Regions from separate parts of the Homo sapiens genome. Here regions 1 and 2 are each linked to region 3. The links come from fine-mapping of genetic effects on gene expression. A gene starts in region 3. Each other region holds a variant in brackets. All regions are shown on one strand. Distances are between the middles of the regions. Region 1 overlaps CDC73 (cell division cycle 73). Region 2 overlaps CDC73 (cell division cycle 73). Region 3 holds the start of B3GALT2 (beta-1,3-galactosyltransferase 2).

Region 1 (4,248 bases), 21 kb after region 3:
ACATAGTTAATGAATTTTGAAATAATACATAAAATCTCATTATAAACCAGCATTGATGAATTTGCAATCAATTTTGGTCATAGAGAACACTAACTTGGAACTTCAATTAAGCAAAATGTTCCCTCACACCCAAAAAGAAATTCCATTATTCTCATTATCAAATCAGTATTGCACATTATTATCATGCATTGTACTTGTCATTAAAAATTTGTGACCAGCCTGACCAACACGGAGAAACCCCGTCTCTGCTAAAAATACAAAATAGCCGGGCGTGGTGGCGCATAACTGTAATCCCAGCTACTCGGGAAGGCTGAGGCAGGACAATCGCTTGAACCTGGTATGCAGAGGTTGTGGTGAGCCAAGATAGCTCCACTGTACTCCAGGGGCAACAAGAGCAAAACTCGGTCTCAAAAAAAAAAAAAAAGAAAAAAAGTGTGAAAATTTGATTTATCTCTTGTTACATAAGCACCTACATAATTTCCGTGGTTTTGTCTATCGGCCTGTAAGCCTAAAGTACTTAGTTTCTGGCCCTTTAAAGAAGAGGTTTGTCAATCCCCAACTTAAATCATTACATTTAAACCATTTTAAATCACTGTAGACTAAAAAATGTAAGGCAATAATGAAAACACACTTAAGGCTGGGCGCAGTGGCTCACACCTGTAATCTCTGCACTTTGAGAAGCCAAAGCAGGAGGATCGTTAGAGACCAGCCCGGGCAACACAGTGAACCGTGTCTCTACAAAATATACCAAAATTAGCTGGGCATTGCAGTGCATGCCTGTGGTCCCAGCTGAGGTGGGAGCAGTGATTGAGCCCAGGAAATAAAGGCTGCAATGAGCTCTAACTGTACAACTACATTCCAGCCTGGGTGACAGAGCAAGACCCTGTTTCCAAAAAGAAAGAAAGAAAAAAAAATGCACTTAAACTATACAAACTCCTGCTATATTACTTACTTTTGCTCATACCTGACTCTTCATTTTTATATTATCATTAAAAATAATTTCACATTAAAGTTTCTAAGAGTTCAGCTTAGATAACAAACACTGGTTTTGGAAACTAGGTTTTATGACTAACTTGATAATTGTTTTTTAACAAAGTCAACCTAAAATTACAAGGCATAACAGAACTTACATGTAAAACTCATAGTGAAAGGATGGCTGGCTTATTTTTATGGGCAAACACCAAATATCAATACAGTGTAAGTAAATAAGGGCACATATAAAAATGGTAGGTTGTTCCTTACAGACCAAATGTTAGCATGCTCAGCTTAAGTGTACCAGTGGAGACCTCAACCACATTTTGATCAATTTTATGCATATGTGGGAGGGAGAGAGAGATACGAATGCATGTGCATGCATCCATGTGTGAAAGAGAGAAAAAGACTAATTATTTTCTTCTATTACTGAAAATGGTTCTGGTAATTTCACTAAATACATTTTATGTAAATACAATCAAATGAGTAAAATGTAAACAAAACTTTTACACAATCCACCAATTATGAAAAATATTTCATGCTTTGCATTTATGCTGTATGTATCTTCACGTCTTTCAAATATGTCACAGCAGAATTTTTTAATGTGTCCATCCTGAGACTGTGTAAAACGTTCATCCCAACATATAATTATTACTTATCTACTGATACATAAAGTCTTCTTTATACTTCTCTATTTGTACTTTACAATGATACTACTTTATTTGCACTTTAACCATATTTGATTTTTTACTCATATTGACTGCATTCTGAATCTTAAGTACTTTTATACAATGCTAAGAAACACTTAAATTGTAATGTCTTTGCAGCACTGAAATTACTAATTGGGAGGGTGAGGTTTAAGGAGCCTCATTAATTTGACTATCAACCTGTAATAAGTGAAAGGTAGAGAAAGTGATTTCCATGCTGAGGAAAGTGGCATACACCTGCAATCTCAGGTACTTAAGGCAGGAGGATGGCTTGAGCCCAGAGTTCAAGTCCAACCTGGGCAACGTAGTGAGACCTCATCTCTTTAAAAAGAAAGAAAGATTTCCAAAACCCAGCAGGAAATCCCTGCTCTTCTCTCCCCTTCCAAATCAACAAAGCTAAATGTGACTAATCCTAAATTTACAGCTCAAACGTGCAGAAAGGTCAGTCTATCGCTCCTCACCTCTCCTGTGATAAATCAGATCCTTTGGATATCTACATTATAAATCCCAAATTCAAAAGAGCTAGTTCCCTCACCAACACTTTTTAACAAATCAAATAGAATGGAATGAAACACAGTCCTAAAGTTGACTCAGTAATCTATACATCTAAAGAAATAACACATCATATCCATCTGGCAAGGGATTAGTCAGACACAACAAGGAATAGAAATCACAATGGCAAATCAAAACCTATCTAAGCAGTGCCCAAGGGGAAAGGTACCCTGGACTTGCAACAAGTCCTTTTTTTTAATGAAGAGTTAAAAATAACAGACTACTTTAATACCACTAAACATTTGAAGGATATAATTTATTATATGCTCATTGCACAGTACACTGTGATTTCCAATGTAGCTTTACACAGAGAACATGTTATGTGCTAGAGGTGAGAATCCAGTGCCCTTGTTAATTACATTTATCACTGCAAATTAATAAATCAGCATTTGATTTCAAATGCTACTCTCATAAGCTTAATTAAAATGAATCAGTTTCTCATGGTAT[A/G]CTAACATTACTTAGTTTCTCAGCCTTTCTCTGGGCTACAGCAAATTACTAACATAATGCCACCCTATGAGACAACTCAGGATTCAGGCAGCTGATCAACCATAGGCAACAAAACCTCCACACTGCTGTTCATCACCAGCAGTTATTTCTCCTTTGATCTGTTACACAGAAAATATGTTGACTGAAATTATTCAGTCACTTAGAACCAGTTACTATGTACTATGGACTAGTCTTCGATGATCTACAAGAGGTTTCTAATATAAAATGTAAATGTAATACTGCCAGTATGACACAATGAAGCATAGTTTTGTAAAATCTACTATACTGGGCTGGGCATGGTGGCTCATGCTTGCAATCCCAGCACTTTGGGAGGCCACCGATCACTTGAGGTCAGGAGTTCAAGGCCAGCCTGGCCAACATGGCGAAACCCCATCTACTAAAAAGTACAAAAATTAGCTGGGTGTGGTGGCGGGCACCTGTAATACCAGCTACTCAGAAGACTGAGGCAGGAGAACAGCTTGAACCTGGGAAGCGGAGGTTGCAGTTGATCCAGATCACGCCACTGCACTCCAGCCTGGGTGACAAGAGTGAGACTCCATCTCAAAAAACAAAAAAATCTACTATACTATAGCCTTTTTACACTGATGTTTAAAGCTTTAAAAGTTATACAAACTTTTCAAAAATATTAATGATGACTCAGAAAGTTAGAAATAATACAAATGTCTATCACAGGTGCCCCAAAATTGGTACCTATCAATTTATTAGAAAGTATTAGATGATTTATGTCTACTGCAGTTAACCTAGGTAAAGAAAAATATTTTCCAATATCAAGTTATTTAAATAGTTACGTTCTTGAAGTTTCTTCTTAAAGTAACTTCTTTTTTTGGGGGGCGGGCAGGGTCTCATTCTGTTGCCCACGCTGGAGTGTGGTGGCGCAATCATGGCTCACTACAGCCTTGACCTCCTGGGCTTAATCAATCTACCTGCCTCAGCCTCCTGAGTACCTGAGACTACAGGCACATACCACTACGCTCGGCTAATTTTTGAATATTTTTGTAGAGGCGGGATTTTGCCAAATTGCCCAAGCTGGTCTCGAACTTCTGGGCTCAAGGAATCCACCCGCCTCAGCCTCCCAAAGTGCAGGGATTACAGGCATGAGCCACTGCGCCCAGCCTGTTAACTTTTCTAGGAGGGGGAAAAAAAAAATATACACACACACCCACACACACACACACACACACACACAACCCCACAAAGTTCTTGATGAATTATAATGTACCTACAAATTTACTATCAGAATAATTGGTAATTATTCTGTCACTCTAAAACTCAGTAATTCCTAAGGATATTGTGAAATACCTTGTGTAGCTAGATAAGTTACTAAAATATTATAATCCTATCAGAAGCTGAATGGGGTGTTATTTTCTAAAAGCCATCTATAGAACACAAGTAAGAATTCAGTAACTTCTGAAAGATCAAAAAGCTGCTTTATTTTAGTTCTCAAGTTTGGTATAATGAAATATATTAGGAATTCAATTCCAGAATATTTATGGCACCACACATAAGACAG
Region 2 (4,248 bases), 39 kb before region 3:
CTACAAAGTCTGTTATCTCCCTAACAGACTTCAGGTTTCCATTCTTGTAACTTTTCTTTCTTTTTTTTTTGAAACGAGGTCTTGCTGTAGTGCCTAGGCTGGTTTCAAACTTCAAACTCCTGGGCTCAAGCAATCTTCCCACCTCAGCCTCCCAAAGTGCTGAGATTACAGACATGAGGCACCACGCCAGACCTGGACAACAGTTTTCTTGAAGGCAAAGCCAATCGCTCAGATATATGGCACACCAACCAGTGTGCTGCTTTACATGTAGCATTCTCATCAGAGCAGAACTAAATGAAATTGAAACAAAAATAAAAAAATAGAAAAGATAAATGAAACAAAAAAAGCTGGTTCTTTGAAAAGATAAACAAAATGGGAGCTATTACACCTGACACCACCGAAAGACAAAATATCATTCAAGGCTACTATGAACAACTTTACATGCAAAAACTAGAAAACCTAGAATATATGGATAAATTCCTGGGAAGATTCAAACCTCCTAGCTTAAATCAGGAAGAACTGGATACCCTAAACAGACCAATAACAAGCAGCAAGATTAAAATGGTAATTTAAAAATTACCAACAAAAAAAAGTTCAGAACCAGAAGGATTCACAGCTGAATTGTATCAGACATTGGAAGAAGAATTGGTACCAATCCTTTTGACGCTATTCCACAAGATAGAGAAAGAGAATCCTCCCTAAATCATTCTATGAAGCCTGTAATACCCTAAGACCAAAACCAGGAAAGGATATAACCAAAAAAGAAAACTACAGACCAACATCCCTGATGAACACAGATGCAAAGATTCTTAACAAAATACATCTAACCAAATCCAACAACATATCAAAAAGATAATCCACCATGATCAAATGGGTTTCATACCAAGGATGCAGGGATGGTTTAACATACACAAGTCAATAAATGTGATACACTACATAAACAGAATTAAAAACAAAAATCACATGATCATCTCAATAGATGTAGAAAAAGCATCTGACAACATCTAGCATCCCTTTATGATTCAAACTCTCAGCAAAATTGGCAGACAAGAGACATACCTCAATGCAATAAAAGTCATCTATGACAAACCCACAGCTAACGTAGTTCTGAATGGGGAAAAGTTTAAAGCGTTCTGTCTGAAAACTGGAACAAGACAAAGATATCCACTCTCTTCATTTCATTCTCTTCTCTTCACTATAAGGACACAGTCACCAAAACAGCATGGCACTGGTATAAAATAGGCACAAGGACCAACGGAACAGAATAGAGAATCCAGAAATAAACCCAAATACTTACAGCCAACTGTAAGTATTTTGCCAACTGATCTTTGGCAAAACAAACAAAAACATAAAGTGGGGAAAGGACAACCTATTCAACATATGGTGCTGGGATAATTGGCAAGTCACATGTAGGAGAATGAAACTGGATCATCTCTCACCTTATACAAAAATCAACTCAAGATGGGTCAAGGACTTAAGTCCTGAAACACATCAAGGACAAAGACCTGAAACTAGAAAAATTCTAGAAGATAACACAGGAAAAACCCTTCTAGACACCGGCTTAGGCAAGGATTTCATGACCACGAACCAAAAAGCAGATGCAGTAAAAACAAATATAAATGGCTGAGACCTAATTAAACTAAAGAGCTTTTGCACGGCAAAAGGAACAGTCAGCAGAGTAAACAGTCAACTCACAGAGTGGGAGAAAAATCTTCATAATCTATACCTCTGACAAAGGACTAATATCCAGAATCTACCTCAAACTCAAATTAGCAAGAAAAAAACAAACAATCCCATGAAAAAGTGGGCTAAGGGCAGGAAAAGACAATTCTCAAAGGAAGATAAACAAATGGCCAAGAAATATGAAAAAAATGCTCAACATCACTAATGATCAGGGAAATGCAAATCAAAACCAAAATGCAATACTGCCTTACTTCTGCAAGAATGGCCCTAGTCAAAAAATCAAAAAACAATAGATGTTGGCATTGATGAAGTGAAAAGGGAACACTTCTACATTGCTAGTGGGAATGTAAACTAGTACAACCACTATGGAAAACAGTGTGGAGATTCCTTAAAAAACTAAAAGAAGAACTGCCATTTGATTCAGCAATCCCACTACTGAGTATCTACCCAGAAGAAAA[G/A]AAGTCATGATACAAAAAAGATACCTGCACACGCATGTTTACAGCAGCACAATTCGCAATTGCAAAAATGTGGAACCAACCTAAATGCCCATTAATCAACTAGCGGATAAAGAAACCGTAGTATGTGGATATATATATATATATATATATATATATCATGGAATACTACTCAGCCATAAAAGGGAAGGCATTAATGCCATTTGCTGCAATCTGGATGGAACTGGAGACTATCAGCCTAAGTGAAGTAACTCAGGAATGGAAAACCAAACATCGAATGATCTCATTTGTAAGTGGGAGCTAAGCTATGAGGATGCAAAGGCATGAGAATGACGAAATTGACTTTGGGGATGCAGGGGGAAACTGTGGGAGGGGGGTGAGGGATAAAAGACTACAAATCAGGTTCAGCATATACGGTTCGGGTGATGGGCACACCAAAATCTCACAAACTACTTAGTCATGTAACCAAATACCACCTGTTCCCCAAAAACCTGTGGAAATAAATTTTTTTTTAAAGACAAAAGGTAAGAAGATAAATTTAGGCAACATAATAAATCTTTAAAACAATAGAAAAAAAAAGAAAACACATTCAGCATCCTCAAACATTGGTTGAGCTAAAAAATTGGTCTGAAATAATTATTTTGATAAAACCATGTAAGATTTCTAAGTGCTCTGAGACCACCATTTGGAAATTATGGCACTTGTACTCATATATGTACATATATGAATGCATATTTCATATATGTGTATATGCGAATGATTTCATATATGTGTGTATGTGAATGCATATTTCATATATGTGTACATGTGAATGCATATTTCATATATGTGTATATGTGAATGCATATTTCACATGTGTATATGTGAATGCATATTTCATATATGTGTATATGTGAATGCATATTTCATATATGTGTATATGTGAATGCATAAATTTCGTATGTGCATATGTGAATGCATATTTCATATGTGTATATGTGAATGCATATTTCATATGTGTATATGTGAATGCATATTTCATATATGTGTATATGTGAATGCATATTTCATATATATATATATATACATGGAACAATGGCATTGAGTAAACACTAACAAATTATGACCCTTAAAAACTATGACTTTATGCTGTTTCTCGTATAATATGACAGATCCCCTAAGTAACTGCAACAATAATTCCCAAAAAAAAACAAGTAAACAGTAAATCTCATGAAGTGAGTAGTCTGGTAGTTATCAGAGACCAGGAAGGGTGGGGGAGTGGAGGAGATAGAAGTTGATTAATGGGTACAGAAATACAGGTACAAGAAATAAGACCTAGTTTTCAATAAATCAGCAGAGTGACTACAGTAAACAATAATTTACAGTATATTTCAAAATAGCTATCAAAGAATAATTTGAATATTTCCAACATAAAGATAAATGTTTAAGGTAATATATATCTTAATTACCCTGATTTATTACATATTATAAAAATGTGTCAAAATATTACATGTACCTCAAAATATGTGGGTCTATTACGTATCAATACAAAAAAAAAAAGGAAAAAAGAAAAAAAATCTTAAAAGCCTATCTGAGCTAGCGCAAGGTATAAAAAATACTTAGACCAAAGACCAAGTGAAAAGAGAGGAACCCAAAGAAGTAAGAACAACACTGCAGACTGCTATTCATTGGATTTGCAAACCAATTAAAGTTAAGCCTGGTTTTTCACTATATTTCACTGGGCTCCTGAAATAGAAAATAAGTCCAAATTCTGCTCAAGGTAGAAAATCTAATAAGAGTTCCTTCCCTTATAAAGCTGAGACTCAGGGGTTAAGTTCAACATAATGGTAAACTAGAAATAAACTCACTGTTCACCCTCTTCCCCAACAACCCCAACCCTAACCCTACCCTTATTTTGACAACTGCAAGGAAAATCAAATATCTCAAATGGTAAAACTGACCTCATTTGAATTTGCAGCAAGAACAACAGTATCTAGATATTTAAAACCTCCAATAGAGAATTTAATTTAAAGTTATGCTAGATTGGTAATGCTCCCAGGTGCTTAACAGACACAGATGCACATCTTCTCTGGAGTTCTGTCATATTCACTTGGAGATCAAAGAATTTCTA
Region 3 (4,248 bases):
CAGTATTTATCTGACATTTGGACTATTTTACAACTCCAGGCACTGGTTCTGCATCTTTTAAGTGGGTATTACAATAATAAAATTATTAGAAAAGAGCCATTTGCATAACAGCTCAAGTAAGCTTAGCACGCAATCTGATTTTCAGTAAATACTCCATAAATGGTCATTGTGGCTAGCTTCATAGTCAAATCCTATGTAAAGAATCACTGATAAATAAATACTGATCTACAAAAACACATCTGTACTTCTGGAAAATAAGTTATTTTAAGTAAGTTCTTAAGCATTACTCTGTTAACTAGTAAACTAATTTTAAAAACAAAACGGTAGTGAGTGAGAATTGCAGTATGGGTGGATATAGACTACAAGGAAGTTGGGTTTTAGTCCTCTCCTTCAAACTTAACTAGGAAAAGTCAAAGCTCAGTCTAGGCTTTAGGTTTCCTATTTATAAAATTCTTTTTTTTCTTTAACGATCCTTCTAACATTTCTAATACAGTGGGGTTCTTAAAACTACAAAGCACATTTCATCAGCAAAGCTCAAAAATATGTGGACAAAATTTTTTTTAATATCAGAGAAAACAAATTCATATTCATTTGAAATAGCATATATTAATGGTGGAGGCAGTGAGATGAAGAATATGTATATAACTGTTAACCTTTAGCTTAAGCTCCAAAACTATAACTTTCTAGGACTGAATTACTGTCCCTAGAGTCACAGAGGAAAAACTGATAATAAAGGCTTTTTACTACAACAAAAAATTTAAAAAAACCTTCCCTACTGCTCTGCAGTAAGAAAAGAAGGTGCCAGCCCCAGAAACTAACCATATTAGAAAAATCTCAGTGAGTGTGTAGTGTTAATAAAATCTGCCTCATGGCAAGTTATTAAATCTTTCTGAAACATTAGAATAAGTAAACATAATTAGTAAAATCTCATTACCCCCAGATCCTGTACAAGTGTGCTATATCTATTACATCATTTTACTGAATTCTACGATACATGTAATTTTAAAGGGAAGGAAAAATAAATAAAAAATAAATGACAACATTAAAAAGTGATTTAAAATAAAGTTTTCTGCCATCAAGAACACCAAAAACCACATAAGAGCAAAAAAGAAGTGGGCTGTATCACATCATGCATTAGTAAAGTAATCCAAGACAGCTTATTTATACAAACCCCAGAAAACGGGGGGGGGGATCTAAATTACAAAGATACATGGTTTCAATAGAAACCATAGGTCTTAACTACATATTAGTAAAAAATCAAGAGCAATTTGAAAGCAGAGAAAAAAAACTTCAAGAAGAGAATGCACTGAAGGGGTTAAATTACACCAACTTACACACAAAAGCTTATACTGCTTACACCCTACAAAAGCATGTAAGAAACATGAAAACCAACATCTAACACAGAAAACACTTAGAAAGCCTGTACTTAAGAATAAAGTTAAAAAAGGAAGTAAGCTGGAAAAAATAAAATCATAACCATTTCATAATCATCACATTTTCAAATTATTCACTCATCACTACACTTGCATTCAACATATATAATTTATCACATAAAAGCAAAATCTCTAAGCTTCTCCCTACCTTAGGTTTTTAGTCAAAATGAATGCAAACAATCACGTGGGATTCAGCCAAGCAGTGACGTTAAATTCTGCTCTGTCAGAGAGAGCATCTGTCAAGCCCACATTTAAACTGCTGCCTGCCTGTGCAGCAGCTGAGGAACCGTGGATTTCATATTATAGACTAAAACCCCATTAAAACTGCTCAAAATCCTTCCTGCAGCTGCCAGGCAACAACGAAAGAAGAGAGGTAAATCCTATTCTTTTCCAATACAACTGAAGCACTACATTTTAGCTCTGGCTGCTTTACATTGCAGCTCAGTGTTATTAGTAGAAATATGGATACTGAGACGAGAACACAGCACTGCATTGTCCAGCCAGGAAAATAGCAGATGTAAAAAGCTTCAATGCATCAACTGTCGGGAAGAGTCAACAGTGCTACAAGCAGAACGGGCAACTACAGCTCTTTTGTTTAACGAAAGAGAGAAAATGAAAGAAAGGGAAAATTTCAGAAGACTAGGACCCATATGAACAAGGAGGGTAACTCGAAGACAAGCAGACAGATGGACACTTTGGATACTGTGAAAAGCAATCGCAGGAGGCAGACTGTTGGGGGATGTGCGCATGTTCGATAGCATCTTTTTTGCTGAAGTGATGGCGTGCCAAAAGTATTTTCAGTGGGCATAATCCTCTTCACATAAATGGCCTGACCAAGGAAGGTATGTCAATATCTTGTGTATGATAGTCATTTAAATGTGTTACCTTTTTATAGCCCTGGAGGCACTAATACCTGATAAGCAAGTTCATACAGCTCACTGCCCTTGAAACTATGAAAAGGTTTCTTAATATCTGATTTTAAAATTTGTCATTGTTTAGAAGACAAGCTGTCACTGCTTTATGCAGCTAAATATGTAGCTTGGAGTAATTCTGGGTAATAGACATCAGAGGGAAAAGGCAAATAAGAAGAAGATGTGTTTAAAGGATTCCTTAAGAAATTAAACTTAAAAAAAAATCTGTAGCCCTTTACAAAAAACACAGCAATATTCTATCAAATTAGGTCAAACTGAATCCTTATCTAGTAAATTAAATGCTCTCTTAAAAATGGCTATCAAAAGACACAATGCAGTGAAATTTCATTAAATAGTAGCAAGGAAAACCTTAAGAGTTTTTTTTTCAAAGTCCTTTTAAAACAAAACCTTAATATGTAACAGCTTTTAGTAACAAAATCTTCCCCAACATCTCCCTAAATGAAGATAATGAACACAACCAAAGAGAGTATCAACAAATTTTAAATATTACCAAGCTACAAGAAGATACTAAAAGGAAAGCATTAACATAAGATCACATAAGGTAGTGTGAGTTTATGCATAACCCCACAATAGAGCCTCGTGTTATTATAGTGACCATGAATAGAACTTTAAACAAAGGGACATCAATAGTGGCTTTAAAAATTAACTATTTTAAATAGCTTACATTTTATGTAAAAGACTGATTCCAAATGATCAAATTTAACGTTGTCTCTGATTATCATTTCAGAAGTGAAATTCAAAAACATAATATGGAAATACTTTGATACAAAAATATCCACAAATGGCAATACAAGGTCAAAAAATTAAATATAAATGTAGCTACTATGCTTCCAGGCTATATTAATATGCAGTAATGAACTACCGCCACTATATGTGTGTGCAGGGCACAGATAAACCAAATAAACTATTTTAGCAACAATCATAGAACAGCAACTCAGGGCTCAAGAACTTAAAGATATTTCTAAAATTCTACAAATCTATCAAAGATCCTGATTTTTCCTCAATTTCACAACACAACTCAGTAATTATCTAATAATCACAAAAGGCAAACATTTTTTAAAAATATGTAAGTACTGCATTCCAAAATGAAGATTAAACAAGTTTACCAGACTCTATTACACCTCAACATCACTCTCACCCATGAATTTTTATTCTAATAAAGACTAATAATAAATAGTACTAAAAAATATGGTTGTAAAAATTTCAAGTCCCTCTTGGTACCTTAATCTCTCAATATTGAAGTCACCAATTAAGCAGTTTTATAAGCTATACATCTCAAAACAAAAGTGTAAGTTTTTCTATTAAACCATCACCAACAGACTAAAGAGATCAACACTTTTAAAAGCCAAATGATAAAAACTGAGTGTGTACTGAACAGCATTTTACAGTAACATTCTCCCCATGAACTTCATCCACAAGCTATAAATACACATTAATAATGTGAAGATATCAAAAAAGAAGAGATAAACCAAAGCTATTTCTCTTCTAAAAATGTAAAAGTGCAGAACTATTTTGCATACTACTGAACTTTCTTGTTTTGCTCTCTCTTTTTAAGAATTAAAATACAACAGGCAATAACTGGAGAATAATTTTATCATTTAATAAAAAGCAGGCATGGTTATTTTAATTTTATATTCTTTTTAACAAAAAAATTTATAAGACCTGAGAATCTTTTAATAAGGAATTTTTTAAAGGCTAGACACATGCACTTCATTTATCAATGGGAGATTTATAGTTATATATGGATTTAATATCTCAACAGCTTAACATCTAAAACATACAAATACCATGAAGTCTAAATTAAGATGCATCTCTATCACATACTGTTACAAAATCATATTAGGACCAAAACTATGTATTTATGCTACATTACAATATGCAAT

Evidence for each region. PIP is the estimated chance that this variant, and not a neighbour inherited with it, causes the effect.
Region 1: its variant is the best candidate, but not a certain one, in a credible set for the expression of B3GALT2 in whole blood (INTERVAL, PIP 0.87).
Region 2: its variant is the best candidate, but not a certain one, in a credible set for the expression of B3GALT2 in whole blood (TOPMed, PIP 0.51).

Annotation. Positions count from the first base shown.
Region 1 is chr1:193,162,828-193,167,075 of GRCh38, reverse strand. The region is part of intron 10 of CDC73 (cell division cycle 73); the gene reads right to left. Among named protein-coding and RNA genes, the nearest start is that of B3GALT2, 22 kb to the left of the region's middle. The variant A/G (reference allele first, on the strand shown) is at 2,679.
Region 2 is chr1:193,223,295-193,227,542 of GRCh38, reverse strand. All of the region lies in intron 13 of CDC73 (cell division cycle 73), which reads right to left. Among named protein-coding and RNA genes, the nearest start is that of B3GALT2, 39 kb to the right of the region's middle. The variant G/A (reference allele first, on the strand shown) is at 2,142.
Region 3 is chr1:193,184,046-193,188,293 of GRCh38, reverse strand. B3GALT2 (beta-1,3-galactosyltransferase 2) reads left to right here and starts at 1,681. Exons shown (of 2, transcript NM_003783.3): 1 at 1,681-2,275. The region is part of intron 10 of CDC73 (cell division cycle 73); the gene reads right to left.